4 linked regions of the Homo sapiens genome follow. The main gene of each other region encodes a partner of the protein of the gene in region 2 in a complex. Each region holds a gene or a part of one and is shown on either strand. Other genes may lie near its edges.

The links.
Region 1: LSM2 (region 2) and SNRNP200 share a complex: the UniProt entries of both Homo sapiens proteins name them as parts of the U4/U6-U5 tri-snRNP complex.
Region 3: LSM2 (region 2) and PRPF31 share a complex: the UniProt entries of both Homo sapiens proteins name them as parts of the U4/U6-U5 tri-snRNP complex.
Region 4: LSM2 (region 2) and LSM5 share a complex: the UniProt entries of both Homo sapiens proteins name them as parts of the precatalytic spliceosome.

The regions. Positions count from the first base shown.
Region 1 is NC_000002.12:96,287,725-96,295,546, reverse strand, and holds part of SNRNP200 (U5 small nuclear ribonucleoprotein 200 kDa helicase), read left to right. Parts: coding exon 1-59; intron 60-2,037; coding exon 2,038-2,231; intron 2,232-2,451; coding exon 2,452-2,575; intron 2,576-3,646; coding exon 3,647-3,796; intron 3,797-4,044; coding exon 4,045-4,155; intron 4,156-4,731; coding exon 4,732-4,863; intron 4,864-5,032; coding exon 5,033-5,221; intron 5,222-5,550; coding exon 5,551-5,748; intron 5,749-6,167; coding exon 6,168-6,320; intron 6,321-6,429; coding exon 6,430-6,510; intron 6,511-6,800; coding exon 6,801-6,884; intron 6,885-7,577; coding exon 7,578-7,684; intron 7,685-7,822. UniProt on the Homo sapiens protein: Catalyzes the ATP-dependent unwinding of U4/U6 RNA duplices, an essential step in the assembly of a catalytically active spliceosome. Plays a role in pre-mRNA splicing as a core component of precatalytic, catalytic and postcatalytic spliceosomal complexes.
Region 2 is NC_000006.12:31,796,586-31,804,407, forward strand, and holds the end of LSM2 (U6 snRNA-associated Sm-like protein LSm2), read right to left. Parts: intron 1,923-7,822; coding exon 1,892-1,922; intron 1,465-1,891; coding exon 1,405-1,464; intron 1,298-1,404; coding exon 1,172-1,297; 3' UTR 811-1,171; downstream 1-810. UniProt on the Homo sapiens protein: Plays a role in pre-mRNA splicing as component of the U4/U6-U5 tri-snRNP complex that is involved in spliceosome assembly, and as component of the precatalytic spliceosome (spliceosome B complex).
Region 3 is NC_000019.10:54,125,340-54,132,621, reverse strand, and holds the end of PRPF31 (U4/U6 small nuclear ribonucleoprotein Prp31), read right to left. Parts: intron 6,123-7,282; coding exon of another isoform or gene 6,095-6,122; coding exon 6,005-6,094; intron 4,550-6,004; coding exon 4,422-4,549; intron 4,318-4,421; coding exon 4,245-4,317; intron 3,566-4,244; coding exon 3,437-3,565; intron 3,351-3,436; coding exon 3,252-3,350; intron 1,316-3,251; coding exon 1,190-1,315; 3' UTR 909-1,189; downstream 1-908. UniProt on the Homo sapiens protein: Involved in pre-mRNA splicing as component of the spliceosome. Required for the assembly of the U4/U5/U6 tri-snRNP complex, one of the building blocks of the spliceosome.
Region 4 is NC_000007.14:32,486,616-32,494,416, reverse strand, and holds the start of LSM5 (U6 snRNA-associated Sm-like protein LSm5), read left to right. Parts: upstream 1-4,036; 5' UTR 4,037-4,051; coding exon 4,052-4,097; exon of another isoform or gene 4,098-4,392; intron 4,393-5,072; coding exon 5,073-5,168; intron 5,169-5,764; coding exon 5,765-5,792; intron 5,793-6,659; coding exon 6,660-6,732; intron 6,733-7,123; coding exon 7,124-7,156; 3' UTR 7,157-7,801. UniProt on the Homo sapiens protein: Plays a role in pre-mRNA splicing as component of the U4/U6-U5 tri-snRNP complex that is involved in spliceosome assembly, and as component of the precatalytic spliceosome (spliceosome B complex).

The sequences.
Region 1 (7,822 bases), on a different chromosome or scaffold from region 2:
TCATCACCCGCAAGGGTGGTGAGCGCACCTACACCCAGCTGGTGCGGCTCATCATTCTGGTGAGTTGGGAGCAGTCGTAGAATATAGAGTCCAGTTGTGTCAGGGCGGGTTTGCTGGGTTTTCATGCGAAATGTTTCTTTGCTGCCTTTTCTGTAGGCACTAGCCTTTGTAATGACTAGTCCTCCAATTCCGTAGGATGAGATCCATCTTCTCCACGATGACAGAGGTCCTGTCTTAGAAGCTTTGGTGGCCAGGGCCATCCAAAACATTATAATGACAGCTATTGTCAGCTTGTGTTTGCCATCTTATTTATTTATTTATTTGTTTGTTTGTTTGTTTGAGATGGAGTCTAGCTCTGTCGCCCAGGCTGAGTACAGTGGCACGATCTTGGCTCACTGCAGCCTCTGCCTCCCGAGTTCAAGCAATTCTCCTGCCTCAGCCTCCCCTGTAGCTGGAATTACAGGCGCCTGCCACCATGCCCAGCTAATTTTTATATTTTTAGTAGAGACTGGGTTTCACTGTGTTGGCCAGGCTGGTCTCGAACTCCTGACCTCGTGATCTACCCACCTCAGCCTCCCAAAGTTCTGGGATTACAAGCGTGAGCCACTGCGCCTAGCCTGCCATGTTATTCTTTATATATTTTTTTATGTCTGAAATATTTTACTACACTTGATCTTAAGCCAAAAGGCCAAGAAGCTATGTCTGAAATATTTTGAAACAAATGTAAACAGATAGACAAAAAACCATCATATCCAACATCATTTAGGGTTTTATAAGTAAAAGAATCCATTCTCTGAGGGAATGAGTGAGGAAGCAGGATATTGTATTCCATATACACAGAAACTTCCAGAGATTAGTGACTAAGTCTGAGTATAGTTTAAGTTGTCTGGGAAAAGCAAGAAAGGAGACTTCACGTGTTGGTTTTCAGTGTTCTGGAGCAGGGGTTGGCAGTCTGTGGGTACTGGCTTTGTTCTGTTGGAACATAGTTACACCCATTTGTTTATGTATTGTTTACAGCTGCTTTTGGCTGCAATGGCAGAGCTGAGTATTTGCAATAGGGGCTGCGTGGGCCAAAGCCTGAAATACTGACTGTCTGGCTTTTTTTTTTTAGACGGAGTTTCACTCTTGTTGCCCAGGCTGGAGTGCGATGATGCAATCTCAGCTCACTACAGCCTCCGCCTCCCGGGTTCAAGCAGTTCTCCTGCCTCAGTCTCCCGAGTAGCTGGGATTACAGTTGCCCGCCACCATGCCCAGCTAATTTTTTGTATTTTTAGTAGAAATGGGGTTTCACCAATCTGATGGCCAGGCTGGTCTCGAACTCCTGGCCTTGGGTGATGCACCTACCTCAGCCTCCCAAAGTGCTGGGATTACAGGCGTGAGCCACTGCCCCCGGCTTTTTTTTTTTTTTTTTTTTGAGATGGAGCATCTGACTTTTTAAAAAAAACATTTCTGGTCCCTGCTTTAGAGCTTTGCTACTTGAAGCCTGATCCATGGTTGGGGTCATAGCAGCAGCAGCATGGAATAGGAGCTTGTTAGAAATGCAGGATTTGTGGCCTCACCCCACACCTGCTGAATACAATCTCCTTTTTAACAACATCCCCTGGCTTTGGGATACTTAATAAAATTTGAGATGCACTGCTTTAGACTATTCAAACTCATCATTTGATGTGTGATAGCTTTTGTTCTTGGGAACTATAACTGCCAGAGGTGAAGCTTCTGATCAGATCATATTTATATCCTTTTTCATAAAGAAGTTTACCTTTAAGTAAAGTTTAAACTCATTTATCTGAGTTTCAGAATTTCTTTATACAAAGTATGTTACTGAACTGTACCAAAGCAACTCATGGTCAGAGTCTGTTACTTTCTGGAGTATTTCATGGGAAATATTGTCTCCATCCTTTGGGCATCTGTGGCTTGGGATCCCTTGTCTTTTTTCTTAGGCATATTAGGTTATATGCCTACAATATGGGACAATTCCAGGAAAAGGGACTATGTATCTCTAGTGCTAGAGGTAATTTCTGTCCTCCAATTCCGTAGGATGAGATTCATCTTCTCCACGATGACAGAGGTCCTGTCTTAGAAGCTTTAGTGGCCAGGGCCATCCGAAACATTGAGATGACCCAAGAGGATGTCCGACTCATTGGTCTCAGTGCCACCCTACCCAACTATGAAGATGTAGCCACCTTTCTACGTGTTGACCCTGCCAAGGGTCTCTTTTACTTTGACAACAGGTATCAGGAAAGACTGGGCAAAGTTCTGCCAAGGTGACCATCCTGCTCTCTTTCCTCTTTTCCAAGGAGTGCTACTGGGTTGGGTTTTAGAAGGGCCTTTGGGTTTTGATGTGGTGTGAATCATAAAGGAGGAATATTGCTCTTGGGGCAGTGAAAAAGACTGTTTATTCCCACAGTATTTTCTGCCAAAGCCTCATTTGTCTAACTGTTGAACTTCTAGCTTCCGTCCAGTGCCTCTGGAACAGACATATGTGGGTATCACAGAGAAAAAAGCTATCAAGCGTTTCCAGATCATGAATGAAATCGTCTATGAAAAAATCATGGAACATGCTGGAAAAAATCAGGTTTGCCCGTGGTTTATGGTTACTCTTGAACCCCATTCTTTCGAATGTTTGATTCACCAATAATTGGGGAAGATTGACAGAAATTAAAAGAGAGAAGACACAACATAAATCACCAATATCAGCTATGAAATGGGATATTACTACAGAACCTATAGCCACTGGAAGGATAATAAGGGAATACTATGAGTAATTTTATGCTCATAACTTTAAAAATTCAGAAGAAATGGACCAGTTCTCCAACAACTACCAGTTAACTAGCAAAACTCAGCCCAGATGAAATAGATAACATGAAGAGCCCTACAACTATTAGAGAGTTGGAGAATTAAAAATCCCCCCAGCAAGCAATCCCCAGTCCCAGATAATTGTTTTGTGCATTCGCATTATCCAGGGTCCCTCCATAAAAGATTTGGGGTCACTTACACTAAAAATGCAAGACAATAAAAAGAGGAAAATGAAAAACTAGAGGGCATTTTACTAGACAGTGTGATAGAATTTTTAAATTGAAAGTCGAGTTGAGCAATGTTAACTAACAAAAAATAAGGAAAAGTGACTGGTTTTGTATTTCTTTTTGTCTGATGAAAAGAAGCATATGAATTTATATGAAGAGACAGATCTTTTCTTGGCACTAAATACTAGGAAGACTTCATTCCCTACAACAGTGTACTAGTCTCAGACTTATTTCCTAAATCCTTTTATAAGTAGTGTAATGTTTTAGTTGTTATTTTGCAGACACATTTTCATGCAGCTTTGACTCTTGTTAGGTGCTTGAACATAAATTCTGAGTTGAGAGGCCCGAATTTGTAGTTGTAGTCTATTTAAAGTTGCTGTTCAAGATAGGATGTTGAAGTTGGTTTAATTTCTCAGCTCCAGGACTGTGAACTTGGTGGGTGCATTCCCTTAAAAGTCTTTCCAGCCGTGTTTAGGCTTCCTCTGAGCCTGCACACATTCCTGCCCTTGCCCCTCTCCAGGACCTTGGCTTCTGGTGGTGATGGTGCAACTTCTGCTTCCTGCTGCAGGTGCCCTGGGGCTGTGAGTATCTCGTGACTGTAGCAAACTGTGGCTTCTCCTTAGGTGCTGGTGTTTGTCCACTCCCGGAAGGAGACTGGAAAGACAGCCAGGGCCATCCGGGACATGTGCCTAGAAAAGGACACTCTGGGTCTGTTTCTGAGGGAGGGCTCAGCCTCCACAGAAGTCCTGCGAACAGAAGCTGAGCAGTGCAAGGTGAGGAGGGGCCAGCTGGGTTCTCTCATTCCTACCTGGCAGCTGTGTCCATCTCAGGCCCCAGACAGCTCCTCTAGGACTGTACTGTGGTATTGTTGTTTCCCATGGGTTAAGGTTGATTGTCTGGATGTGATTATTACTATTCCACATAATAGTTAAGGGGCAGGGTCTCATGGGAGGAGATTTCCTTAGTCCTTGGATGAGTCCTACAGGAAGGCTCGCCTCATCCCCGGTTCTTTGTTCCACAGAACCTAGAGCTGAAGGATCTTCTGCCTTATGGCTTTGCTATTCATCACGCAGGCATGACCAGGGTTGACCGAACACTCGTGGAGGATCTTTTTGCTGATAAACATATTCAGGTGAGGGGGTGCAAAGCGTTTGGAGGAGCAGGTGGGACATACTTCAGAAGATGGGCAATGTCAAGTTTGTGCCATGTTTGCTCCTGGTACTTTATTGCTTCTGGCCCAGCTAGCCCAGGTCAGAGGGTTGTGGTGGACACAATAAATAGAACCTTATGCTACTCTCCCAACTCTTCCCACCTTGCTTGAGTTTAGGATAGTCTGAGAAGCATAGTGAAGCAAGCACTTTGGTGACTTCAGATAGCTCCAAACAGTGTCTCATGGGGGCACGCGTGCCCTTGTCGTTCCCTCTTTCCGGATAGGCTCTGTTTTACCTTTTCTAGTAACTTTAAGGTTGTTTAATACAAGTCTGCACTTGTGCCTCTGGAACCTTGAAATGTTCATTACTGAATAGATGAGGAACCCAAGGAAACCTTTCCTCTTTATTCTGGTGTCACATTGACAAGTACTGGGACCCCACGCGCCCTACCGGCTAGTCCTGAGAGAAGCTCTGAGGCCAACTGCCTAGAGAAGCCAGGGATATTAACCCCTGGTGATGGCATCTGTTCTCCTCATTACCTTGTTTTGCCTCTGTAGGTTTTAGTTTCCACAGCAACTCTAGCTTGGGGTGTGAATCTCCCTGCACATACAGTCATCATCAAAGGCACCCAGGTGTACAGTCCAGAGAAGGGGCGTTGGACAGAACTGGGAGCACTGGACATTCTGCAGGTACAGAGCCTTTTGAGTTTATTCTCAGCAGGGATCAGTATCCTTGCCTGAAATGCAGGGATGCTGGAAAGCTAGCAGATCAGAGGTCTAGTTCTGTAATGTAGATACCTGCATCAAAATTCAGACATTCTCTTGACATAGCATTCTTGGTTCGCTGTCTCTGATCTAGATGCTGGGACGTGCCGGAAGACCCCAGTATGACACCAAGGGTGAAGGCATACTCATCACATCTCATGGGGAGCTACAGTACTACCTGTCCCTCCTCAATCAACAACTTCCTATTGAAAGCCAGATGGTTTCAAAGCTTCCTGACATGCTCAATGCAGAAATCGTGCTAGGAAATGTCCAGAATGCCAAGGTAGGGGAGGACTGCTTGTTGTGCTTCATGCTTTCCCCGCAGACACCAAGGCACCAGGAGTGGGTCGGTCCCTATTGTGCTGCGGGCCAGCAGCGTCCGAGGCCTTCCATCCCTGCACCCACATCTTGGGTCTGGCAGATAGTTCCCCTTGTTACCAAGATCTTAGAAGACGCTTAGATCTTTTTAATAATGAAATGCTAAAAACATTCAGAATACGATGTAATATGCATCCTTGTAGTTGGGAATTAATTTCTAAGCAATTCATGGGAGCCTGTCATTTGGACATCAAGAGTTTCTCCATGCTAAGAACCATGAGCTGTGTCTTGTAGGATGCGGTGAACTGGCTGGGCTATGCCTACCTCTATATCCGAATGCTGCGATCCCCAACCCTCTATGGCATCTCTCATGATGACCTCAAGGGAGATCCCCTGCTGGACCAGCGCCGACTAGATCTGGTTCATACAGCTGCCCTGATGCTGGACAAGAACAATCTGGTCAAGTACGACAAGAAGACGGGCAACTTCCAGGTGCGTGGGGTGAGGGTTTTGAGGCAAAGGTCTCAGCAAAAGTTGTTGGCCCAGGAAAAAATTTTTCAGATTGCTCTCTTGATGTGAGTACTGCCTATCTAATCACCTGTTGCTTAGAACAGCAGAAAAATGGGTAGCTTTTCCCATAACTTGAGGTGGATAATTCAGCTGTCTTGTCCGTGCAGACATCATTTCACTATGGGTCAGCTTATTCTGCTGTTTTTCTTCATGTGCCTGGGCCTGGCACTTGTACTGCTGTGACTTCATCCAGTTGTCCTATTAGGACAATAATGACATTGGGTCATATACTTTACCAAAAAAAAAGTACAAAAAACCTATAGGACAGTAACTTATGGTCCACAGTTAGAGGTTGGAGCTCATTAATAGTCAGCACTGGATTGAGTCTACCTTCTCTCCAGGTGACAGAACTGGGCCGTATAGCCAGCCACTACTACATCACCAATGATACAGTGCAGACTTACAACCAGCTGCTGAAGCCCACCCTGAGTGAGATTGAGCTTTTCAGGGTCTTCTCATTGTCCTCTGAGTTCAAGAACATCACAGTGAGAGAGGTGAGCCTATGCAGCATGATGGGGCGGGGAGTTGGTGCTCACCAAGTCACTGAATGGTGTCCCTCCTCGGCCACAAGGCTTTCCCTTGACCTTTTCCTCCTTGTGGCAGGAGGAGAAGCTGGAGCTGCAGAAGTTGCTGGAGAGGGTGCCTATCCCTGTAAAGGAGAGCATTGAGGAACCCAGTGCTAAGGTGAGCTCCTCTCCTCTTTGCTTTGATAAGGATGAGGATTAAGTGGTTTTCATAATCTTCTAAAAGATGAACCTTGAATTTGGGTTCATGTGTGGTTTCCTGCTCAGTTCTCCTAGTTTTTGCAGCCTTCTCGCATGTTCTTTTTATATGAAATAACAATTATTTAGTATTTGTAAATCAAGACCTGTAGCAAATCTCACCTGGCCTGGATGCTCAGAGCAGAAATGTAATTCCCTTTCTTGGACTGTTCAGTGATTGGTCTCCTGCTGGCTGATTTTGCTTCTTTACAGATCAACGTTCTTCTGCAAGCCTTCATCTCACAGCTGAAATTGGAGGGCTTTGCACTGATGGCTGACATGGTGTATGTCACACAGGTGAGAGCGGAGTTGTATGGCAGCTGTGAGAAGGGGCCTGAACAGTTCAATCCCTGTGTGCTGTGTGCATCCTGGGGAAAGGAGGCCCGACCCTAGTGAGATGGGAGGAGTGCTTAGTTCTGCTCTTGCCGGGTAGTTGGTTGGTGCATGTGTGGTACAGCCACTCTGTAGTATACATCTTGAGCACGTGGGAAAGGTAAGACCTTAAGAGGGAATGCTTCGAGGCTCCACGGGCCCTCAGAGAGACAGGAAGAGCCACAGCACGCAGTGTCTGCTTCCCAGCAGCAAAGTGATTTCCCACTGTTGCTGCACAGCTCATAAATAAATCCAAAAATGGCACAGGGTTTTATTAGCTGCTCTTCATCTTTACCTCTAAGAACAGGTCACTGGTACCCTCAACTCTTCCTAGAACTCTAAATGCTAAATGACTCAAAAGCTTTAAAATCATGCAGTGAATGTTAGGTTAAAATGTTGTGCAGTGACCTTGAGCCGCAGCACTCTTCTAATTGTTCCCCATCCGGCAAGCATCTACTATATGGAACGGAGAAAGGCGTAAAGACAGAGGGGACTTTGCCTTTGAGTTAGGGTGGGTGGTTGTGTCAGAGCTGGAGGTAATGAAACCGTGTGTAGAGTGGCTCATGAGGCCTGGGGATAGTCGAGACTTAACAGTGGGAATGCTGCTTCTTTGCTTAGTCGGCTGGCCGGTTGATGCGAGCGATATTTGAAATTGTCCTGAACCGAGGTTGGGCACAGCTTACAGACAAGACCCTGAACCTCTGCAAGATGATCGACAAACGCATGTAAGGACCCAGTGAGCTGGATGCTGGTCACCATGAGTGGGGGTCCCCAACCCAAGGGTCTGATGGGAAAGCCTCAGGGTGCATCTGATCTCCAGACCTGACATCGGAAGTATGACCTGAACCTTGGTGCACATTGAG
Region 2 (7,822 bases):
CACACCTGTAAGCCCAGCTACTTGGGAAGCTGAGGCAAGAAGATCACTTGAACCTGGGAGGCGGAGATTGCAGAGCTAAGATCACACCACTGCAGTCCAGCCTGGGTGACAAAGTGAGACTCCATCTCAAAAAAAAAAAAAAAAAAAAAAAATTAGCCGGGCATGGTGGTGGGCATCTGTAATCCCAGCTACTCAGGAGCTGTGGCAGGAGAATCGCTTGAACCGGGAGGCGGAGGTTGCAGTGAGCCAGACCAAGCCAGTGCACTCCACCCTGGGCAACAGAGTGAGACTCCCGTCTCAAAAACAAAAAGGAGGGTCACACTAGATGGTCTCTAAGGGTCCCTTAAGGCTGAGAAGTCTCATCTGTATCATGAACTCATATTTGCTGAATGAGTGAATGAAGTTTAGTAATTCCCAGTCACAACTTTTCTCTAAAATATAAATTACATCACTTGTATTTATCTTCTATACATATTCAGAAAACATGAACTGATTTGGTTGGATTGGTGAAGTCTGGTAGCATGAAATGTATCTTATGACACTATCACATTAATGGAAGGACAGCAAGCACTCCAGTTGCAGGTATGGTATAAGCAAAAGGCCACAGGGAGAACATACAGGTAGGGACATGTTGGGGAAACATGGTGTAGAGCAACTGTATTATATGCTTTATACCAAGGAGAGTAGTGGGAAGCTGAGTTGGATTCTTGGCTGGGTTAACGCAGAGTAACAGGGGCTTGGATGAATTCGACATCCTTTTCCATGTCCCAGCCCCCTGCCCAACACATAGTAACAGAACCAAAACACAAATTTGCATCATAAATTTTATTCCCGATGCGGGACAGATTCCTTCCATCCCCAAATGAATCACATGCTGCCCTGGAAAGACCTAGGAAACTCTCCTACCATCTCCAGAGAAGTAGTGAGAAAGGCAGGTGCTGGGGACTGGGAAGGCTTTGAAGTTTCCCAGCCTACTTATCCTCCCCTTCTCAAGAGAGGATAGCTGTTCCCTATTACTCCTCTCATCCACTCATCCCTTAAAAAAAACCCACAAAACCATCATTAGTAAAAAAACAAAACCCCTTCAAGTATTGGGGGTTAGGGGTTCTGGGCTGGGACTTGGGGTTATGGGTCACCAATGAAAGAGGGAGGGGAAGAGGAGGAGGAGCCATCACTGTTTCTGCTGCAGGGCTTCCTTCCTTGCCGCATCCTGTAGCAACTGTGTGTCGACCTCATCTGCTGGCAGCTGCACGTATCGGACCACTGAGCCCCGAATGAAGCAGTTCTTCACTGATAACTAGACAAAGATGGACAAATATGAAAACACCCTTAAAAATGTCCTCTAACCACCCAGGGGCCTCCTGCTTTAGAGGTGTTTCCTCTTCTCCACAGACCCCAACTCACCATGTGAGGGTATTTCTCAGGGTCTGTGACACTGATGTCAGTTAGTTTGATGTTGAGATACTAGGAAAGGAAGATGAACACCATTATTATTATTATTTTTTTTTTTTTGAGACAAGAGTTTTGCTCTTGTTGCCCAGGCTGGAGTGCAATGGTGCCATCTCGGCTCACTGCAATCTCCGCCTCCTGGGTTCAAATGATTTTCCTGCCTCAGCCTCTCGACTAGCTGGGATTACAGGTGCCCACCACCACGCCCAGCTAATTTTTTGTATTTTTAGTAGAGACGGGGTTTCACCATGTTTGTCAGGCTTGTCTTGAACTCCTGACCTCAGGCCTCGGCCTCTCAAAGTGCTGGGATTACAGGCGTGAGCCACCGTGCCTGGCCGACGAACACCATTATTAACCCTAGAGACATGATGTAAGAACCCAACCCTTAAGTCTCCCCTCTCCTTCTCCAGGAACCAATTCTGGGGCCCGTGCTATATCTCACCTGATCCACAGAATGGAGGGTTCCACAGATGCTGTCAAGGGCAGAGGGAGAGAAGAATCAAATTAGTTTATAACAAAGTCAACATAGAGGTGACTTCAGAGCTGGGATGAGAACATGACTGGGAGAAGTCAAGGACTTGAGGATGTCAGAAAAGGTAGAACCAAAAGGGGGCATTCCTAAGCCCTGGAGTAGGAAAGACAACTAACAGAGTAGTTTATTTTCAACCCCACATCTCCTCTCCCTAAACCAATCCATTCTTTTTTTTTTTTTTTTTTTTTTTGAGATGGAGTCTCACTGTCAGCCAGGCTGAAGTGCAGTGGTGTGATCTTGGCTCACTGCAACCTCTGCCTCCCAGGTTCAAGCGATTCTCCTGCCTCAGTCTCCTGAGTAGCTAGGACTTCAGGCGCATGCCATCATGCCCGGCTAATTTTTTATTTTTAGTAGAGATGGGGTTTCACCATGTTGGCCAGGCTGTTCCTTAACTCCTGATCTCAGGCGATCTGCCCACTTCAGCTCCCCAAAGTGCTGGGATTACAGGTGTGAACCACTGTCCCCGGCCAAACCAACCTATTCTTAACAGCTACCATTAAACAACTGGTAAAGGCTAGACCTGTATTCTATATAGTATTTGTAATCTTTACAGCCATCTTTCAAAGTAGTTATTACCTTCCAGGGGCTCAGAGAGGTTGTTTTAAACTTTATGAGTTTAGAACAAATGGGAACTTCAGTCCAAGTCTGTGTGACTCCCAAAACCATCAGCTATTTTTTTTTTATTTTTGCGACAGGGTCTCACTCTATGGCCAAGGCTGGAGTGAAATGGCGTGATCATGGCTCACTGTGGCCACTTGAGTAGCTGTGATTACAGGCTTGAGCCACCATGCCCAGCTGATTTTTTTTTGAGATGGAGTCTCGCTCTGTCGGCCAGTCTGGAGTGCAGTGGCACAATCTCGGCTCACTGAAAGCTCCATCTCCCAGGTTCACGCCATTCTCCTGCCTCAGCCTCCCGAGTAGCTGGGACTACAGATGCCGGCCACCACTCCTGGCTAATTTTTTGTATTTTTAGTAGAGACGGGGTTTCACCGTGTTAGCCAGGATGGTCTCGATCTCCTGACCTCATGATCTGCCCACCTCAGCCTCCCAAAGTGCTGGGATTACAGGCATGAGCCACCATTCCCGACTTTTTTTTTTTTTTTTTGTAGAGAAAGGGTCTCACTGTGAATGTCACCCAGGCTAGCTATTTTCAAACATTTATTGCTTTGGAACCAGAGCCCATATGTGGATAAAGGTAGGTAGCATTACTCTTGATGATGCAGGCATGAGTGATGTCCTCTCCATTCCCCAATCCTCGAGCCCCTTGAAATGCTATTTGAGGAATGCTATCAAAACACCAGTGCTCTTTGAGAGAATGGTGCAAAAATTTAAAAAAACAGCCTTTGGCTGGGAATGGTTGTTCACGCCTATAATCCAAGCATTCTGGGAGGCTGAGGCAGGAGGATCGCCTGAAGCCAGCTGGAGAACAGCCCAGACAACATAGCAAGACCTCATCTCTATTTTAAAGTTATAAAATAAAATAACTGTGGCCGGGCACGGTGGCTCACGCCTATAATTCCAGCACTTAGGGAGGACGAGGCGGGCGAATCACGAGGTCAGGAGTTCGACACCAGCCTGGCCAACATCGTGAAACCCCATCTCTACTAAAAATACAAAAAATTAGCTGGGCATAGTGGCAGACGCCTGTAATCCCAGCTACTCGGGAGGCTGAAGCAGGAGAATCACTTGAACCCGGGAGGTGGAGGTTGTAGTGAGGCGAGATCGAGCCACTGCACTCCAGCCTGGGTGACAGAGTGAGACTCCATCTCAAGAAAAATAAATAAATAAAAATAATCGTAATAAATAGCAGTTTTAAAAACGTCCTTATCTTGCCAAAAATAAAGTTGGCAGTTCTCTGCCCCAATTTTTGTAAAATTCTGAAAGTCTTTAAAACCCAGCGTCTAGGCCATGTGCGGTGGCTCATGCCTATAATCCCAGAACTTTAGGAGGCCAAGGTGGGCGGATCACTTGAGGCCAGGACTTCAAGACCAGCCTGGCCAACACGGCGAATCCCCATCTCTACTAAAAATACAAAAATTGGCCGGGCGTGGTGGCTCACGCCTATAATCTCAGCACTTTGGGAGGCCGAGGCGGGTGGATCACGAGGTCAGGAGATCGAGACCATCCTGGCTAACACGGTGAAACCCCGTCTCTACTAAAAATACAAAAAATTAGCCGGGCATGGTGGCGGGCACCTGTAGTCCCAGCTACTTGGGAGGCTGAGGTAGAAAAATGGCGTGAACTGGGAGGCAGAGCTTGCAGTGAGCGGAGATCACACCACTACACTCCAGCCTGGGTGACAAAGCAAGACTCCGTCTCAAAAAAAAAAAAATACAAAAATTAGCTGGGCATTGTGGTGTGCACCTGTAATCCCAGCTACTCAGGAGGTGAGGCACGAGAATCACTTGAACCCAGGAGGAAAAAAAAAATTTAAAAATAAAATATAAAAATACAAAAATTAGCTGTGTGTGGTGCATGCCTGTAGTCCCAGGTATACAGGAGGCTGAGGCACGAGAATCATTTGAACACAGGAGGTAGAGGTTGCAGTGAGCCAAGATCATGCCACTGCATTCCAGCCTCGGTGACAGAGTAAGGATCTGTCTCAAAAAAAAAAAAAAAAAAAAAAGACCCACTTAAATATGCTCTAGGAAATTAATTTAAATGAACTAGTACTAGGCAATCATTATTTTTTTTGAGACAGAGGGTGAGTCTCTGCCTAATAACAAAAACAAAAACAAACACCCAGTATCTGAAACCCACTGCCTCAGTAATGTTCTCACCATATTGCTAGCTGCTGAAAAACATTTGACAGCACCCCACCATCTCCAGCAGTGAAATAACATTTGGGAATTGTACAAAGTGGTGTCATTTTATTAAGTCCCTTAAGGAGGGGGAGATACATAGCACAAAAGTGGTCTGACAACAAACATAAGAGAAAGAACTTTTGGCCAGGCGTGGTGGCTCACACCTGTGATCCCAGCACTTTGGGAGGCTGAGGCAGGAGGATCACTTGAGGTCAGGAGTTTGAGGCCAGCCTGGCCAACATGGTGAAACCCCATCCCTACTAAAAATACAAAAAATTAGCTGGGAGTGGTGGCATGCACCGGTAATCCCAGCTATTCGGGAGGCTGAGGTGGAAGAATCACTTGAACCCAGGAGGCAGAGGTTGCAGTGAGCCAAGATCGCGCCACCGCACTCCAGCCAGGGCAACAGAGTGAGACCCTGTCTCAAGGAAAAAAAAGGAGAAAGATCTTCTTTCTCATCCCAACAGAAAAGTCACTTTAAAGCCACACACATATTGGCTCACACCTGTAGTCACTGCACTTTGAGAGGCTGAGGTGGGAGGATCACTTGAGTCCAGGAGTTCAAGACCAGCCTGGGCAACACGGCCGAGACTCTGTCTCTATGAAAAATTTTAAAAATAATATAAAAAGGCCGGGTGCAGTGGCTCACGTCTGTAATCCCAGCACTTTGGGAGGCCGAGGCAGGTGGATCACGAGGTCAGGAGTTCAAGACCAGCCTGACGAAGATGGTGAAACCCGATGTCTACTAAAAATACAAAAATTAGCCAGGTATGGTGGCAGGCACTTGTAATCCCAGCTACTTGGGAGACTGAGGCAGGAGAATCACTTGAACCCAGGCAGCAGAGGTTGCAGTGACCCGAGATCATGCCACTGCACTCCAACCTGGGTGACAGAGTGAGACCCCATCTCAAACAAAAATAAATAAATAAATAGAAAAAAAAGAAGGCTGGGCGCAGTGGCTCACACCTGTAATCACAGTACTTTGGGAGGCCGAGGTGGGCAGATCACAAGGTCAGGAGATTGAGACCATCCTGGCCAACGTGGTGAAACCCCTTCTCTACTAAAAATACAAAAATTAGCTGGGCGTGGTGGTGCATGCATATAATCCCAGCTACTCGGGAGGCTGAGGCAGGATAATCACTTGAACCAGGGAGTCGGAGGTTACAGCACCACTGCACTCCAGCCTGGCGTAGACTCGACCAGAGCGAGACTCGTCTCAATAAAAAAAAGAAAAAAGAAAAAGAAAAGAAATGTTACTACGGCCGGGTGCAGTGGCTCACACTTGTAATCCCAGTACTTTGGGAGGCTGGGGTGGGCAGATCACGAGGTCAGGAGTTGGGAGACCAGCCTGGCCAACATGGTGAAACCCTGTCTCTACTGAAGATACAAAAAATGAGCCAGGCGTTGTGGCGCATGCCTGTAATCCCAGCTACCAGGGAGGCTGAGGCAGGAGAATCACTTGAACCCGGGAGGCAGAGGTTGCGGTGAGCCGAGATCACGCCATTGCACTCCAGCCTGGGCGACAGGGCAAGACTCTGTCTCAAAAACAAAATAAAATAAAAAAAATAAAGGTACTTTAGGGCCTAGGGTTATAACACAACAGTTAGGCTTCCCATGTAAAAGGCCCAGGAAGGAGAAAAGAGGAGAATCAAAAACAAGTCATCACACCAAATTGCCTAAGACTGATAGTGATTACCGTACTTGTCTTGCTCTGTGGCCCCAATCTATACACATCAATATCACTTGCATTGCCAGTGCTACAAATGGAAACCTGTGTTCTAAAACGCAAAGGCCCTTAAGTCCCTCTCCTCACCATTCCCTGCCCTGTCAACGTGTAACCCATGAAAAAATTATCTCACATAGAAATGTGGAAGACAGCCAGACACAGTGGCACACACCTGTAATTCCAGCACTTTGGGAGGCCAAGGTGGCAGGACTGCTTGAGCCCAAGAGTTTCAGACTAGCCTCGGCAACACAGTGAGACTCTGCCTCTCCAAATAATTAAAAAATTAGCTGGGCATGGTGGCATATAGCCCCAGCTATTCAGGAGGCTGAGTGAGCTATGGTGGTGCCACTGCACTACAGCCTGGACAACAGAGTGAGACCCCCATCTCAAAAAAATAAATGTGGAAGACGCTTTTGGGAAGAGAATACAATTGATCCCATCTTTCTAAAGGATAATGAGGTAACAGGTATCAATATTTTAAATGTACTTTTTTTTTTTTTTTGAGATGGAGTCTCAGTCTGTCGCCCAGGCTGGAGTGCAGTGGCCTGATCTCAGCTCACTACAACGTCCGCCTCCCGGGTTCATGTGATTCTCCAGCCTCAGGCTCCTGAGCAGCTAGGATTACAGGCGCACAACACAACATCTGGCTAATTTTTGTATTTTTAGTAGAGATGGAGTTTCACCATGTTGGCCAAGCTAGTCTCAAACTCGTGACCTCAGGCATCCACCCGCCTCGACTTCCCAAAGTGCTGGGATTACAGGTATGAGCCACCGCATCTGGCCTAAATGTACATATTATTTAAAGGACTGTACAGATAAGTACAGGGCCAGGTGTGCTGGCTCATGCGCGTAACCCCAGCACTTTGGGAAGCTGAAGCAAGAGGACTGCTTGAACTCAAAGAATTTGAAACCAGCCTGAGCAACAAAGTGAGGCACTGTCTCTAATTTTTAAATAAATAAATATTATTTTAAGAAAGAAAGTAGGACTAGGCGCAGTGGCTCACGCCTGTAATCCCAACACTTTGAGAGGCTGAGGCAGGTGGATCACAAGGTCGAGAGTTCAAGACCAGCCTGGCCTAGATGGTGAAACTCCATCTCTACTAAAAATACAAAATTTAGCCGGGCATGGTGGTGGGCACTTGTAATCACAGCTACTAGGGAGGCTGAGGCAGAGAATTGCTTGAACCCAGGAGGCAGAGGCTGCAGTGAGCCGAGATTACGCCATTGCAGTCCAGCCTAGGTGACAGACTGAAACTCCATCTCAAAAAAAAAAAAAAAGAAAGAAAAAAAGCTGGACAGAATCATATTTCA
Region 3 (7,282 bases), on a different chromosome or scaffold from region 2:
GAGGTGGAAAGCTCACTTGAGCACAGGAGTTCAAGCCCAGCCTGGGTAATAGAGCACGACCCTGTCTATAAACAATTTAAAAATGGGGCTGGGGTGGTGGCTCACACCTGTAATCCTGGCACTTTGGGAGGCTGAGGTGGGCATATCATGAGGTCAGGAGTTCGAGAACAGCCTGACCAACATGGCGAAACCCTGTCTCTACTAAAAACTATAAAAATTAGCGGGACATGGTGGCACATGCCTGTAATCCCAGCTACTCAGGAGGCTGAGGCAGGAGAATTGCTTGAACCCGGGAGGTAGAGGTTGCAGTGAGCCAAGATTGCACCACTGTACTCTAGCCTGGGCAACAGAGCGAGACTCCACCTCAGAAAAAAAAAAAAAATTTAAATTAACCAGGAGGCCAGCTGTGCTGGTTCATGCCTGTAATCCCAGCCCAGGAGTTTGAGGCTTTAGTGAGCTTCATCGCATCACTGTACTCCAACCTGGGCAACAGAGACCCCGTCTCTAAAAAACCCAATCATAACAGGACCTGGTTATAGGGCGCTGATGGCAAGTCCCATGCTAAGTGCTTTCTGTGCATTCTTTCCAGTCCTGGGCACCTGGGCGTAGGTGTGGAGGCTTGGAAAGGTGAGGAGGCTGGCCTGAGGTGGACAGCAATCCCGGTCGGCCTGCGCTGAGATCTGCGGCTGTTGGCAGCCACATCATTTGCTATCAAAGTGACTGCGGCTCTCCAGGGGGTTGGAGAGGGCTTTTTCCTTCTGGGATCCCATGACGAGAAAGTAACGGGGAAGGGAGTGGGCCTAGACACCGCTTGGACCCGAGGGCCAAGCTCTTTTCTCAAAGCTCCACAGCTCTGATTCTTCTAGTTGCCCCGGCTGTTTGAAAAATGATCACTCCCCAAGGACAGATCTTGACAATGTCCTTTTAATTGTACTCTTTTCAAAAAATCTCCTTTCTCAGTTAAAAAAGACAAGGCATGATGAAGACCTGCTCTAGCCCATACTGGGCGGTGATCTCGGTCCTGGGGGAGGCCAGGCCGGACTCTTCCAAGGCCTCCTCCCTGGGCAGTCCCAGCAATGGGGCCAGTGGCAGGGCAGGTTCTCCCTGCCAGAACCCGATCCTAGCCCTTCAGAAGGACTGGACCTCTGTGTCCCTTCAGTGGGAAGCCACCTTGGACACACGCAGTCATTCAGGTGGACATAAGGCCACTCTTCTCGCCCTTGACCTTGAGGAACTCAGCCATGCTGGAGAAATACTTCTGGTTGGCCTCAGCCACCTTCTTCTCTGCCGCCTGTGGGTTCACAATCTCCAGGCCCTGGGCAGGTGAGGGAGAGAGGATGATGGGTTAGGTGAGGAGAAGGCCCCAACTGTGACCCATCAGAGCCCCCCAGGCCCTTCCCCATGGCACTCAGGCCTTGGTGGGCATGAGACAGTTTGCCTGTCCCTGGAGTTGCCCTGTCTTGGGAGATTCTGACTCAGTGGGTCTAGAGGGAGAGGGTGGGGAGGAACCAGGGCGCCTGGATTTGTACGAAGTTCCTCAGGGGTGCTAAAAACAACCAATGCTTGAGGACAGCCAATCCTGCCCAGTTTCTGCATAAGGAAACTGAGTCCCTGGGGGACATGGCTGGCCCGAGGTCCTAGCACAAATCACACCAACACCACTGACGATCATAGTGGCAGCAATGGGAGCCAACACCTGGCTGGCACTTCCTAAATATTTTCAAGGCAACAGAGCGAGCCCCCGTCTCTAAAAATAATAACAGGACCCAGTCATTGGGCTCTAATGGTGAGCCCAGTGCCAAGTGCTTCCTGTGCGTTCTTTTCAGTCCTGAGCACCTCATGATGGAGGAGGGGAGGCTTGGAAAGGCACAGCCACTGGCCTCATCTTCTCAAAGAGGCCCTCCCTGGCTGCTCCGAAACGAGAGCCTCCCCTGTCCCACCTCCTACCTTCCACCTCCTCCCCTCCCTGGCATTTCTGCCTTCTTTTTTTTTTTTTTGAGACAGAGTCTGGCTCTGTCGCCCAGGCTGAAGTGCAGTGGCGCGATCTCGGCTCACTGCAAGCTCCGCCTCCCGGGTTCACGCCATTCTCCTGCCTCAGCCTCCCAAGTAGCTGGGACTACAGGCGCCCGCCACCACGCCCGGCTAAGTTTTTGTATTTTTAGTAGAGACGGGGTTTCACCGTGTTAGCCAGGATGGTCTCGATCTCCTGACCTCATGATCCACCTGCCTCGGCCTCCCAAAGTGCTGGGATTACAGGCGTGAGCCACCGCGCCCGGCCTGGCATTTCTGCCTTCTACTACACTGGGCATCTTACTGAGCTGTCTGCGCCCGGCCTGGCATTTCTGCCTTCTCCTACACTGGACATCTTACTGAGCTGTCTGCGCCCAGCCTGGCATTTCTGCCTTCTCCTACACTGGACATCTTACTGAGCTGTCTGCGCCCGGCCTGGCATTTCTGCCTTCTCCTACACTGGACATCTTACTGAGCTGTCTGCGCCCGGCCTGGCATTTCTGCCTTCTCCTACACTGGACATCTTACTGAGCTGTCTGCGCCCGGCCTGGCATTTCTGCCTTCTCCTACACTGGACATCTTACTGAGCTGTCTGCGCCCGGCCACCCACTGGCTCCAAGAAGGTAAGACTTGTCTCTCATTCGTTGCTTCATCCCCAGAGCCGGGAACACTGACAGAACTCAGCAGGTGCTGCGTAGACACCCGCTGACTGGGCAGATGAGCTCGCTGCTGTCTCGCCTCCGTGGTGCAGGCTCGCCCTGCTCTGTGGATGGTAAACCGAGGCTCCGACGATGCGGTGACTGCCATGCTCCACGCTGCTCACTGCTGACTGGCTGGGGCCTGGACCCACACTTGACATCCAAGCCCGCCTAGCCGGGAACTTTCTCGAGTGGGGTCCTGAGGTTACCTTAACCGTCCTGGCCGTTTTGAACTGGAGGGCCTGGAGGCTGAGCAGTGTTACCCGCTCACAGCCCGACAGAGGAACTGGGTGCCCTGAACACAGCTGTGGGCCTGGTTCTAAAGCAGTGCGTGCTCACGAGGACTGCTCAGCGCTGGGCTCTCGTCTCTGCTAACCTCTTCCTGTGTGCCAGGAGCTGTCTACGTCCTCTGCATACCTCGTCACCACACCCTCCACAACAGCCCCATGAGGAGACTCATCCTGGCCTTCTTCACAGGGGCAGAGGGCAAGGGGCCTTGCCAAGGTCTCAGGGCTGGGGACAGAGCCGGCCCAGGGGAGGTACCTGGAGTGGGGTGAAGGCCACGCTGGAGGCCGTGCCCGAGGAGCGGTCGCGGATGGTGGACTTCCCGCCATATACGACGCTCTGCTTCTGCAGGGTCCGCTGTGGGGAGGACAGGGAGGCTGCGATCTGGGCTCCCCCCACCTTGTGTCCCTCGGTCCCCAGCCCCACCTGGGTCTGGCCCATACCTGCAGCGTCTTGGAGATCCTGGCCTTGGTGGCCTCGTTTACCTGTGTCTGCCGCACACGCCCACTGCCCGACTTGCCCAGGTGGCCCAGGCTGAATCCCAGGTCCTCCTGGTAGGCGTCCTCCTCGATCTAGGGGGGAGAGGAGGCGCCCTGCAGTTCAGCGACCAGGCCCTGCCCTCCAGCCACCGAGGCACCCCCTCCACCAGCCCGAAGCCCAGCGGTCACCAGCCGGCCGGTCCCACGGGCACCTGCTCCGGTACCCACTCGGCCCGGCTGAGGCCTGGGGGCCCACACACGCGGGGGATGCTGGGGAGCCTGAGAGGGGCCCGGTCCCAGCACTGCTCTGTGAGCTCAGAGTTGGGAGGCCATTCCTTCCTTACTCGTGTGGGTCGGGGGATGTCAGGAACCAGAACAGGTTTAATAGGATGAGGTGGCCTCTGAGTTCGGTCCTGCAGGACCAAGGGGATGACGCTGGGATAACAGAGGAGACTGGCGGGGCCCAGGGACGGGGCGGCCGTGCAGCAGGGCACTAAGGAGCCTCTGGGCAGGGAGGAACCGGCCAAGGAGCCCGGGGCGATGGGAAGCCGCGGGGGCTCTAAGCAGCGGAGACACAGGCTCCAAGGGTCGCGAGGGTCGCTTTGGGGCTGAACGGATGGAAACGAGAATAGAGGCCGGGGGGGGGGAGGCTGGGGCAGCGCCCTAGACATGAGCCAGGGCCACAGGACGAGAGGAGGGGCGGTGGCAGGAGGCAGAGGGCGGTGGCGGCTGGCTGGCTGTGGGGTTGAGGAGGGCGCTCTGGGAGTCTGACCTCTCCGAAGCTCATACGGTTGGCCTGCTTCCGGATCTCCGTCAGCCCCAGCCGCTCCTTCATCTTGCGGTACCTGGGGACGGGTGGGTGGGCGGCGCCAGGGAGTCGGCTGGGAGGAGGACGCCGGCTTCTCCCCTCCATGACCCCCATGCCTACCGGACCCCCAGGGCCCCTCACCTGCGGCCGCCTCGCTTCTTCCGCTGTCCATCCAGGGGCGCAGGCAGCGGCTTCACCTGCTTCACAGGCGGCGGCTCCTGCCACTTGTCGAATTTGCGCTCGATCTCATCCTTCAGTTCGTAGCCCACCTGGGGAGGGCGAGGGGGAGGTCCTGCAGCTGCTCGCGTGGGCTGCCCACCCAGGCCTCCTCTGAGCGGGCCCCCCGAGTATCCACGTGCCTTAGTTAAATCAGCACCTAATGCTGCCTCACCGCCACCCCCTTTCTTTTTCTTCTTGGTGTTGACTTAGCACCGCTAGACGCAGGACAGAGTTCACCTGTTGACTGTCTCTTTGACCCGGCCCCAACAAGAATGTCCACGCCACGGGGCAGGGGTCCTGTCTGTGCTACTCACAGCTGCACCCCCACACCCAGACCAGGGGTGAGATGGGGAGAGGGAAAGGAGAAGGGGACACGGAACACCTGAACGCTGTGCCAGGCCGGGTGCTTGGCAAACGACAGTTCACAAGACAGAAAACGTCTCCTCTCCCGAGTACATCTACCAAGGAAGACAGAAGGTAACTGAATAATTACTTGAATAACATCCCCTGTTGCAGCGGGGACAGATCCTGGTGTGGAAGGCAAATTACGCCCCCACCAACACACACATGCCCAAAGAGGCCCATGTTCTAATTCCCAGAATCACAGGGCAAAAGGGACGTGAAGAGGTTAAGAAGGATTTTAAGGATTGTGAGCTGGGAAGACTATCCTGGACCATCTGAGTAGGCTCAGTATAGCCACAGGGGCCCTTAAAATAGAAGAGGGGAACAAAAACAGAGGCGGAGATATGAAGACAGAAGCAGAGTCAGAGAGAGGTCTGAGGGTGCTATGTGGCTGGCTCCGCAGACAGAGGGAGGGCCACGAGCTAAGGGGTGCCAGTGACCCCTAGAAGCTGGAAAAGACCAGGGAATGGATTATCCCTTGAATCCCCCAGAAGGAACGCTCCAGGATGACACCCTGACTTCAGCCCAGTGAAACTCATTTTGGACTTCTGACCTACAGGACCACAGATAATAAACCTGTACTGTTTTTTGTTTTTGTTTTTAGATGGAGTCTCGCTATGTCACCCAAGCTGGAGTGCAATGATGCAATCTCAGTTCACTGCAACCTCCGTCTCCCAGGTTCAAGCAATTCTCCTGCCTCAGCCTCCTGAGTAACTGGGATTACAGGTGCGTGCCACCACACCCGGCTAATTTTGGTAGAGATGGGGTTTCACCATGTTGGCCAGGCTGGTCTCAAACTCCTGACCTTGTGACCCGCCCACCCTGGCCTCCCAAAGTGCTGGGATTACAGGCGTGAGCTACTGCACCCGGCCACACCTGCACTGTTTTAAGCCAGTAGGTTCATGCTACCTTCCAACAGCAGACCTAGGAAACCCCACTGGGGAAGGGGGTGCCTGACCCCAGGGAGGGTGGGCAGAAGCACTGCCTCCGCCTTGGTAGGACAGTGCTCGCTGGGGTGGGCTCCCTGCTGAGGGTCTCCCTGCAGAGACACCCCAGGCCCAGAGGAAAAGACGCCCGGCCGCCCCTCACCTTTCCCTCCTCACCTTCCCTTCTGTGCTCTCGTGGAAACTGTCCACACGGGCTGCCAGTGTGCACTTGGCGGCCACCAGCCGGGCCGCTTTCCGCCGCAGATCCTGGAGCAACGGAAAACGGGGGTGGAATCTGTGTGAGACAGACAGACAGAGGTAACAGCAAAGCAACCGCGCGCGCTCCTCCTCTGGCTCTACCTGGGGTCCTGGAAGGGGGCTTTCCACCCTTGGGCTCTAGAGGTGTGTGCTCTCAGCTCCTACTTCACAGGAAGAGGGGATGAGGGCAGGGCACAGAGCCATGTCCCAGCTGATAAGTGGCCATCAGGTAAGGATGACAGTAAGGCACGCTGACAACGAGGACGGTGGTGACTGTGGAGACGCCGGGGGGAGTGCACTCGGCCTGGATGCCAGCCCCATGCTAAGCACGCCCCTCGGATCATCTCATCAAATATTCAAATATCGGGCTGGTGTGATCATTGCACCCCCTTTTCAGATGTGGAAACCAAGGCTTCAAGTCATGTGGCCAGGGAGACAGCCAGCAGGTGATGGAGCCAGGGTTCCAATCCAAACTGCAAACAGAGCCCAGCTGTCAGCCACAGTGAAGCGATGGCCAGCCCTGGCCTCCCTTACAGGCCTGTGGTGTCTACGGCCTGTGCCTGGACCGATGTGAGATGGCCAAATGAAGAGGCAGAGGCCTGGGTGACAAGACATCAGGCTCCCTGGGGCAGGTTTAACCCATATGCCCAGGGCTGTGAGGCGGTGGCGATGGCAGGGGTGCAGTGAGGCAGCTGGAGCCCCGAGCCCCAGGCCCACCCGTCCTGGGTTCTATCGCCCACTCTCTCTCCTCCCAGGATGGGGTGACCTGCCAGCCTCCCTGGGTGTGTTCCAGTAGCAGTGCCTGACCTAAAGGGTCGCAGAAAAGACCACAAAAAAAACCCCACACAGGGCTGGGGGGTGGGGCCAGGAAGTGCCTGCCCAGCCTTGGCCATCAGTGCTATTGTTCTCCCCATCCCTGGGGGAGGCCAGGCAGGGCACAGGGCCGTGAGCCTGAGGTAACTCGCCACAGTTGGACAGAGCAGGGTCTGGACCCAGGCCTGTCTGTCCCAGAACCTGTCTTGCTTGTTTTTTTTTTTTTTTGAGACAGAGTCTCACTCTGTCACCCAGGCTGGAGGGCAGTGGTATGATCTTAGCTCACTGCAACCTCCACCTCCTGGGTTCAAGCGATTCTCCTGCCTCAGCCTCCCAAGTAGCTGGGATTATAAGTGTGTGCCACTATACCCAGCTAGTTTTTTG
Region 4 (7,801 bases), on a different chromosome or scaffold from region 2:
TTTTAATGCTAATACTGCAGACATTTTTCAAGATGCTGCTATACATTTCTTTTCTGTATTACAAAATTATTGGCATTGGCTAAGAAAACTGTGTAAAACTATATTGCTCCCTGTATGCAGAATATATTAACTGTTTTCTTAATATATTAACTGTTTTGAGCTGTCAGCTGTGTGATGTGTTAACTATTAATATTTTCTTGATATAACCTGTCTTGATATTTTCCACAATTGGCATGGCTAAAATTACTGTCTAATTGAACACCTTTTAAAGATGTATATAAGGGCCGGGTGTGGTGGCTCACGCCTGTAATCCCAGCACTTTGGGAGGCCAAGGCAGGCAGATCACCTGAGGTCAGGAGTTCTAGACCAGCCTGGCCAACATGGTAAAACCCCCTCTCTAGTACAAAATACAAAAATTAGACCTGTAATCCCAGCTACTCGGACGGCTGAGACAGGAGAATTGCTTGAATCCGGGAGGTGGAGGTTGCAGTGAGCCAAGATTGCACCATCGCACTTCAGCCTGGGGGACAAGAGCGAGATTTCCTCTAAAAAAAAAAAAGATATATATAAAAAGAGGGTCAGGCGTGGTGGCTCATGCTGGTAATCCCAGCACTTTGGGAGGCCGATGCGGGCAGATCACTTGAGGCCAAAAGTTGGAGACCAGCCTGGGCAACATGGTGAAACCCCATCTCTGCTAAAAATGCAAAAATTAGCCAGGCATGGTGGTGTGTGTAATCCCAGCTACTAGGGAGGCTGAGGCAAGAGAATCACCCTAACCCGGGAGGTGGAGGTTGCAGTGATCTGAGATGGTGTCACTGCACTGCTCTCCAGCCCAGATGACAGAATGAGACTCCATCTCAAAAAAATAAAGAAAGGGAGAGAGAGAGAAAGAAAAAGTTAGTTACTGGGAAAATTGAGACAGAAAGTGAACAAGGGAATTTCCAGGATTTTTTTCATCTCTAAATACACAGACTGGACCACTTAAGAATTTAGAATATAGGTGGGGCATGGCGGCTCACACCTGTAATCTCAGCACTTTGGGAGGCCAGGGTGGGTAGATCACTTGAGTCCAAGAGTTCGAGACCAACCTGAGCAATGTAATGAGACCTCATCTCTACAAAAAATAATAAAAAATAAATAGCCAGACTTGGTAGCACGCGCCTGTGGTACTGGCTTCTCAGGAGGCTGAGATGGGAGGATTGCTTGAGTCCGCGAGCACACCACTGTACTCCTGCCTGGGTAACAGAGTGAGGTCTTGTCTCTAAATTAATAAATAAAATATGATGGGGTGTTGCTATGTTGCCCAGGCTGGCCTCAAACTCTTGGGCTCAAGGGATCCTCCTGCCTCAGCCTCCTAAGTAGCTGGGGCTACAGTTGCCTGCCACCATGCACATCTTACATTATGTTTTAAATGAGTTGTATTAATGTAGAATAAATTCATTAACAAGATATTGTCCACAAGGACAAATGTCTATTGGGAAAATAATAAAATTTCTAATTTAACTCGAGGGAGAAAATTAGAAATGCCTTTCTGAACATATAATACATGGAAGAGCCTTTGGTAGTTACATGTATTTTATGATAAATTATAAATTCTATTTTACGTCTTCTACTTAAGACTTAAAGGGAGAAAAATCCTTGAGACATAGAGCTATGACATATTTTCAAGTTCATAACAACTCTCCATTTGGAATTGGCCTGTTCTTCCTTTTTGTGTCTTGCCTCAGGAGAGAAAATAATAAAAATACCACTCCCTGAAATCCCCATTAACTCTACTATGTAAGTGAACTATATATCGTTCCTTTTTTCAGATTCTAAAGAGATTTTCTTTATTCTTTATTAGTGGCATTCAAAATTGCTAATGTTTATTCTGTTTTTTTTTTGTTGTTGTTGTTTTGAGATGGAGTCTCACTCCGTCGCCAGGCTGGAGTGCAGTGGCACGATTGGCTCACTGCAACCTCTGCCTCCCAGGTTCAAGCGATTCTCCTGCCTCAGCCTCCTGAGTACCTGGGACTACAGGCGTGTGCCACCACACCTAGCTAATTTTTGTATTCTTAGTAGAGATGGGGTTTCACCATGTTGGCCAGGATGGTCTTCATGTCTTGACCTCGTGATCCGCCCACCTCGGCCCCCAAAGTGTTGGGATTATAGGCGTGAGCCACTGTGCCCAGCCTATTTTTCTAATTTTTAAAAACTCTATCAAATAACAACAATGTTTTGAATTCTCCCATACTGTCAGTATGGTATGGGGAAAATAAAATAGGAATAGAAAAGGAAAACCAGGAAAAGAGGTGGTTTTCAACCAAATGAGGATTGGACAAAAAGAAAAAAAGAGAAAGAGAAAGAAAGAAGCGTCACAAACAAATCTGGCATTACTTCGTATTTAAAATCTTATGAAGAGTAAGGAGAATGTTGATGGGTGTGAATGAAATAGTGAGAATCAATTTAAAGAATATTCATTAGGCGCCCTACAGTGTGCCTGAAAATGTAGTGTGCACAGTGTATAAAATAAGAAATTGCTTCCTTAAAGTGGCTTATGTCTGGTTATAAAAATAAGATGAATGCAAAACCAGCTAGCAATGCTAGCTTTATGTAGCTTCACTCTGAGCCAGACATCATGTATTAGAAAACAAGGATAAGTAATAACAGCTCATGTTTAAAAGGGCTATGTGCCAGGTCCTATGCTGACCACTTTTCATAGATTATCTCAATTAATCTTCACATTAATCTTATGAGTAGATACTGTTGTCCCCATTTTTTCCAATGGGTATATTGAGACTTAAAAAGTTAAAATAACTTGCCCATTGTCAAATAACTGACCATGGAATTTGAACCAAAGTCATTTAATTCAAAATGAAGAAATTTAATCACGTAAACTACTGCTTCCCATAATTCTCAGCCTTGAGGAACTCAGTCTATGAAGGAATGATGGGTGCTTAATGACCATTTGTTGTATGAATGAATGACGTTCTTTGTGGCCGCTCATGTTTATTGTTTAGCTTTTTTTTTTTTTTTTTTTGAGATGGAGTTTCGCTCTTGTTGTTCAGGCTGGAGTGCAGTTGCATGATCTAGGCTCACTGCAACCGCTGCCTCTCGGGTTCAAGCAGTTCTCCTGCCTCTGCCTCCCGAGTAGCTGGGACTACAGGCGCACGCCACCACGCCCAGCTAATTTTTGTATTTTTAGTAGAGACGGGGTTTCACCCATGTTGGCCAGGCTGGTCTCGAACTCCTGACCTCAGGTGATCCGCCCGCCTCGGCCTTCCAAAGTGCTGGGATTACAGTCGTTACCACTGCGCCTGACCTAGACTGTTCAGGTTTAAGTTCCTAGGATACAAATATAAAACAGACTAGGGCCGATACTTTGCTGTTTTCAACACAGAAGTGGAAAGCATGATTTTACACTTCTGGAATAATTTAGAGTGACATCTGGTGGTTGCCTGTGAGACAAGAATTGTTGAAGAAACTGAATTTAAAAGCCTATAATAAATAAGACTACCAGACATAAAAAGATAAGAACGATGAATTAAAGTAGTAAAAAGTTTAAAAAACATATCTTAAATCCTCACTAAAGAAAAATTTTAAAAAATGCTAGTTGCAGATTTTCAATCCACTGGACTTTAAAAAGAAACAATAGATTCCTTAATGAGTAGTTGTAACGAAAATTGTAACAGTTAATTGATGGCAGGAAATACGAATTGATTTATACTGGTTTGAAGATTCTGGCTTGAGAGGAAATGCAACTTTACGGGGGAAGAAGACTCAAACGTTACAGGAACAATTTATTCACAAGGCAAAATATCTTCAACGTCTCTCCAAAACTTCAAGGGCATTATGGGTATCTGCCGAGATGGTAAAATGTCCAGTGGGCAGGAAATATTTCACCGGATCTCACTTGCCGGGGAAAAAAGCCAGTGAACGCGACCCACGCAGCTGACTAGATCGTGCGCTCGGCCTCAGATTGGTCGAGCCTGTTTGGGCTGCGGAAAAAGCGGAAGCGCGCTTTTCAAAGTCGTCCCACCATCAATGAAGGCAGGCCACTTCCGGCGTAGCCATGGCGGCTAACGCTACTACCAACCCGTCGCAGCTGCTGCCCTTAGGTAATCGCCGTCCTTTGGGGAGCAGGAACAGGGAGCTGACATTCAGGATTGGGGGCCGAGGGGCTGTTCCGAGGCAGGCCCTGGCCGAGTGTGGGGAAATGTATAAGACCAAATGCGGTTCGACTCTGAGCTCCAAGTCTTCGCGACAGCAGGCCGCACCTGCTCTTTAACGTGGTCGGGCTCCTCCAGGCAAGGACTTTGACTTCTCAAACCAGACCTTCACTGGAAAAGGTCCACATTTAGTGAACGCGTCGTCGGCCTACTTTGTTGTGAGCCCGCCTCTGCAGTGTTATAGGTAGTAGGCCTACTTCTCAGCCTGGCGTTTACGATCCCCAGATTAGATAGACCATGTTATGTATGTGGTTGGTTAGTGACACTAACACCCTGGTCCGGAATGAGCCTTAAATGAGGAATCTGGAAACCAGCTCTGTTTGTTATTTATTCATTCAATAAGTAGTAACTGAGTATCTATACACTAGATACCGTGCCTGGGCATTTTTCAATGATAAACCATAGCCATTGCCTTCAAATAGCACACAAGCCAGTGGAGGAGAGAACACTGGACAAGTAGACATCATGCCACATAATGCTAGGCTAGCTAAAGAGATGTTCAAGCTACCGTCAGAGCACAGAGGATAGACAGAGTTGGGAAAGGGAAGCAGTGACCGGAGAGTTTCCGGTGAATATAATTATACCTATCTCCTCTTATATTTTTGTAGTTGGTGAAGAGTGATTGAACTAGTGGTCGTGGCCGTGATTGAAAAGTTTTCATTCCTTCATGCCACAGACTCTTTTGGAAGGCTCATTATGTGCCAGATGCTGTGCTTGAACTGAGATTTGTATTATAAGACCTAAAGTTATTGAATGAATGTTTTTCCTGGTTTTTCTTTCACTATATGCAAGTAAGAGTGCCAGTAGGCACTCAAATATTTGTTGAAATAATGAATGGTAAAATAATATTTTTTCCCTCCTCAGAGCTTGTGGACAAATGTATAGGATCAAGAATTCACATCGTGATGAAGAGTGATAAGGAAATTGTTGGTACTCTTCTAGGATTTGATGACTTTGTCAGTATCCTTTTAAAAGGTGGTGGTGGTATAGGTTTTTCTTAAGTAATAACATAAGAACTATAGACAATCAGTATATTTGTGATTATTATAATAAAAATCAGTTCATTCTCAGGGAACTTATGATAATGTTTTAAGAGGTATGTATTGAAAGACGGTAAAGTTCCTATCAACAACAAGCATTTTGAATTTGAGCCATTGTATTAAACATTGTAATTAAAACTGAACAGGCGAGCCCAGTGGCTCACGCCTATAATCCCAGCGCTTTGGGAGGGCGAGGTGGGTGGATCGCTTGAGCCCAGGAGTTTGAGACCAGCCTGGGCAAGATGATGAAACCCTGTCTCCACAAAAATTACAAAAATTAGCTGGGCATGGTGATGTACACCTGTGGGTCCAGCTAATCTCCGGGGCTAAGGCAGGAGGATCCTTTAAGCCTAAAAGGTGGAGGCTGCAGTGAGGTGTGATTGTACCACTGCACTTAAGCCTGGATGACAGAGCGAGACTTTGTCTCAAAACAAAAACAAAAACAAAAAACAAAAGCTGAACAAAGGCAGAAGCTAGAGTAAATTCTGTATTTATTTTCTTAACACCAAATTTCAGATATGGTACTGGAAGATGTCACTGAGTTGTGAGTAGTGTTAAAGAATTGGGGGGAATCTCTTCTTAATTAAAGACAGTTTTACTACTTTTGAGTAAAATTATTTATGAGAAAACATTACCTCTTGGTGGAATAACGTTAAAGATAGACGTTTTATCTGTTTGCTTGTAAAATTGGATCAGAGTGTTATTACCTTAATGTAATTATTAGTAAACGCCTAGAATATTAGTGGAGACACAGTTTTAAGGTAGAAGATAACAAAAAGAGCCAGGAATTTTAGGGTTCAGGTCAAATAAAGGAACTGATAGTAAGAGCATTTAGGCTGGACATGGTGGCTCATTCCTGTAATCCTAGCACTTTGGAAGGCCAAAGGAGGAGGATTAAGCCTGGGAGTTTGAGACCAGCCTGGGCAACAAAGGGAGACCCCTGTCTCTATAAAAAATTTAAAAATTAGCTGGTTATAGTAGGGGGCAGCTGTAGTCCTAGCTGCTCTGGAGGGTGAGGATCCCTTGAGCCCAGGAGTTCTAGGCTGCAGTGAACTATGATTGTACCACTGTACTCAGCCTGGGCAACAGAGCAAGACCCTGTCTCTTAAAAAAAAAAAAACCCAAAAAACATTTCATTTCATATTTGATTTCCTGGGCAAGCTTTCACTTCTTTTTATGAAGCTCTGTCTGATAGACGTGGGTCTTAGTGTCAGTGAGTTCATTCTGCTGCTTTTAATGAAGGTTACATTACCTAGTGGATAACCTTTGTATCTGAAAATTGTGGATATAATTGCTCAACCTCAGTGTAATTTGTATACAAGGATAACCTTTTTAGGGAGGGTAAGTATTTCCAAAATGTTGGCTTTGATTTTCACTGTTTGTCCTGACTGTATTTTATCTATTCATTTAGTGAAATCACACCAGAAGGAAGAAGGATTACTAAATTAGATCAGATTTTGCTAAATGGAAATAATATAACAATGGTAAGACACATTGAAACTGTTTTATTTTGATGGGAGCCCATTTTTGGGGAGCAGTGATTACAGAACTAACCTTAATGTTGCTTGCTTGACTAAATGATCATGGCCCAGTGGTGCATAAGATGGGAAAGGGGTTCTCTGTGGTCAGGGTCCTAAAGCTCAGCTATTGAAGAGGCATTGGGTCTAAAGGTTAGTTTGCTTGGAACTTTTAATCGCTGTTGAGATAGTAAGTATTAATTGATGACGTTGGGAATTGTAAATAGATACTGACAATCTGGAGAAAATGGGAACGTGGAGTGCAGGGGACAGGCAAAGGTGGCTTAATGAAGAGCAAGGGGTTTTTAGATGACATGGTGGTAGTGTTATTAATAAACTCTTTTTCCTCTTTATGCAGCTGGTTCCTGGAGGAGAAGGACCTGAAGTGTGAATGAGTTTCCTTGACTTACACTAGATTTTGTTTTGGCTTATAATGACAAGAAAATGGAATTTTTTTTCCCACTTTCTAATGTTTAAATCCCATAAAGCTAAGTTTCCCGTTAAAGGGAAGTGCTTTGAAGATGTGTACCCATTTTTGTAAGTTAATCATGATTATCCTGGAAAAAGAAGAAAAGAGCTTCTTCTTTGCAGATGAAAATAAAGGTGTTTTTGGTTAACTGTCATTTTGTTTATTCTACTGCAGTAGCCAGTGGAACAAAGTTTGTAGTTATTTTGCCACTTACTTTTCTGTCATTATATGCTTATTTGTTTTGTCATTTACGTGACCATTTGATTCTCAAACAAAAGTTGTTCCAAACAAAATGATGAACTTTGATTTGAACAGGTGCATTTAAACAACCGGAAATGATCACTTAGAAAATTCAATTAAAATGCTGTTGTTTTGTAATGAGGATTTTTCTTCTGATTTCAAATTCCATGAACTCCTATTGAAAACAAACAATGTACAGGTAATATATGCACATTGTAGAAATGCAGGAATTATCTATTGGAATTACCCTAAAGATAGAAATTTTATCTATTTGCTTATAAAATTGATTCAGAAGGTTATTACCTTAATGTAGTTATTACTGAATTG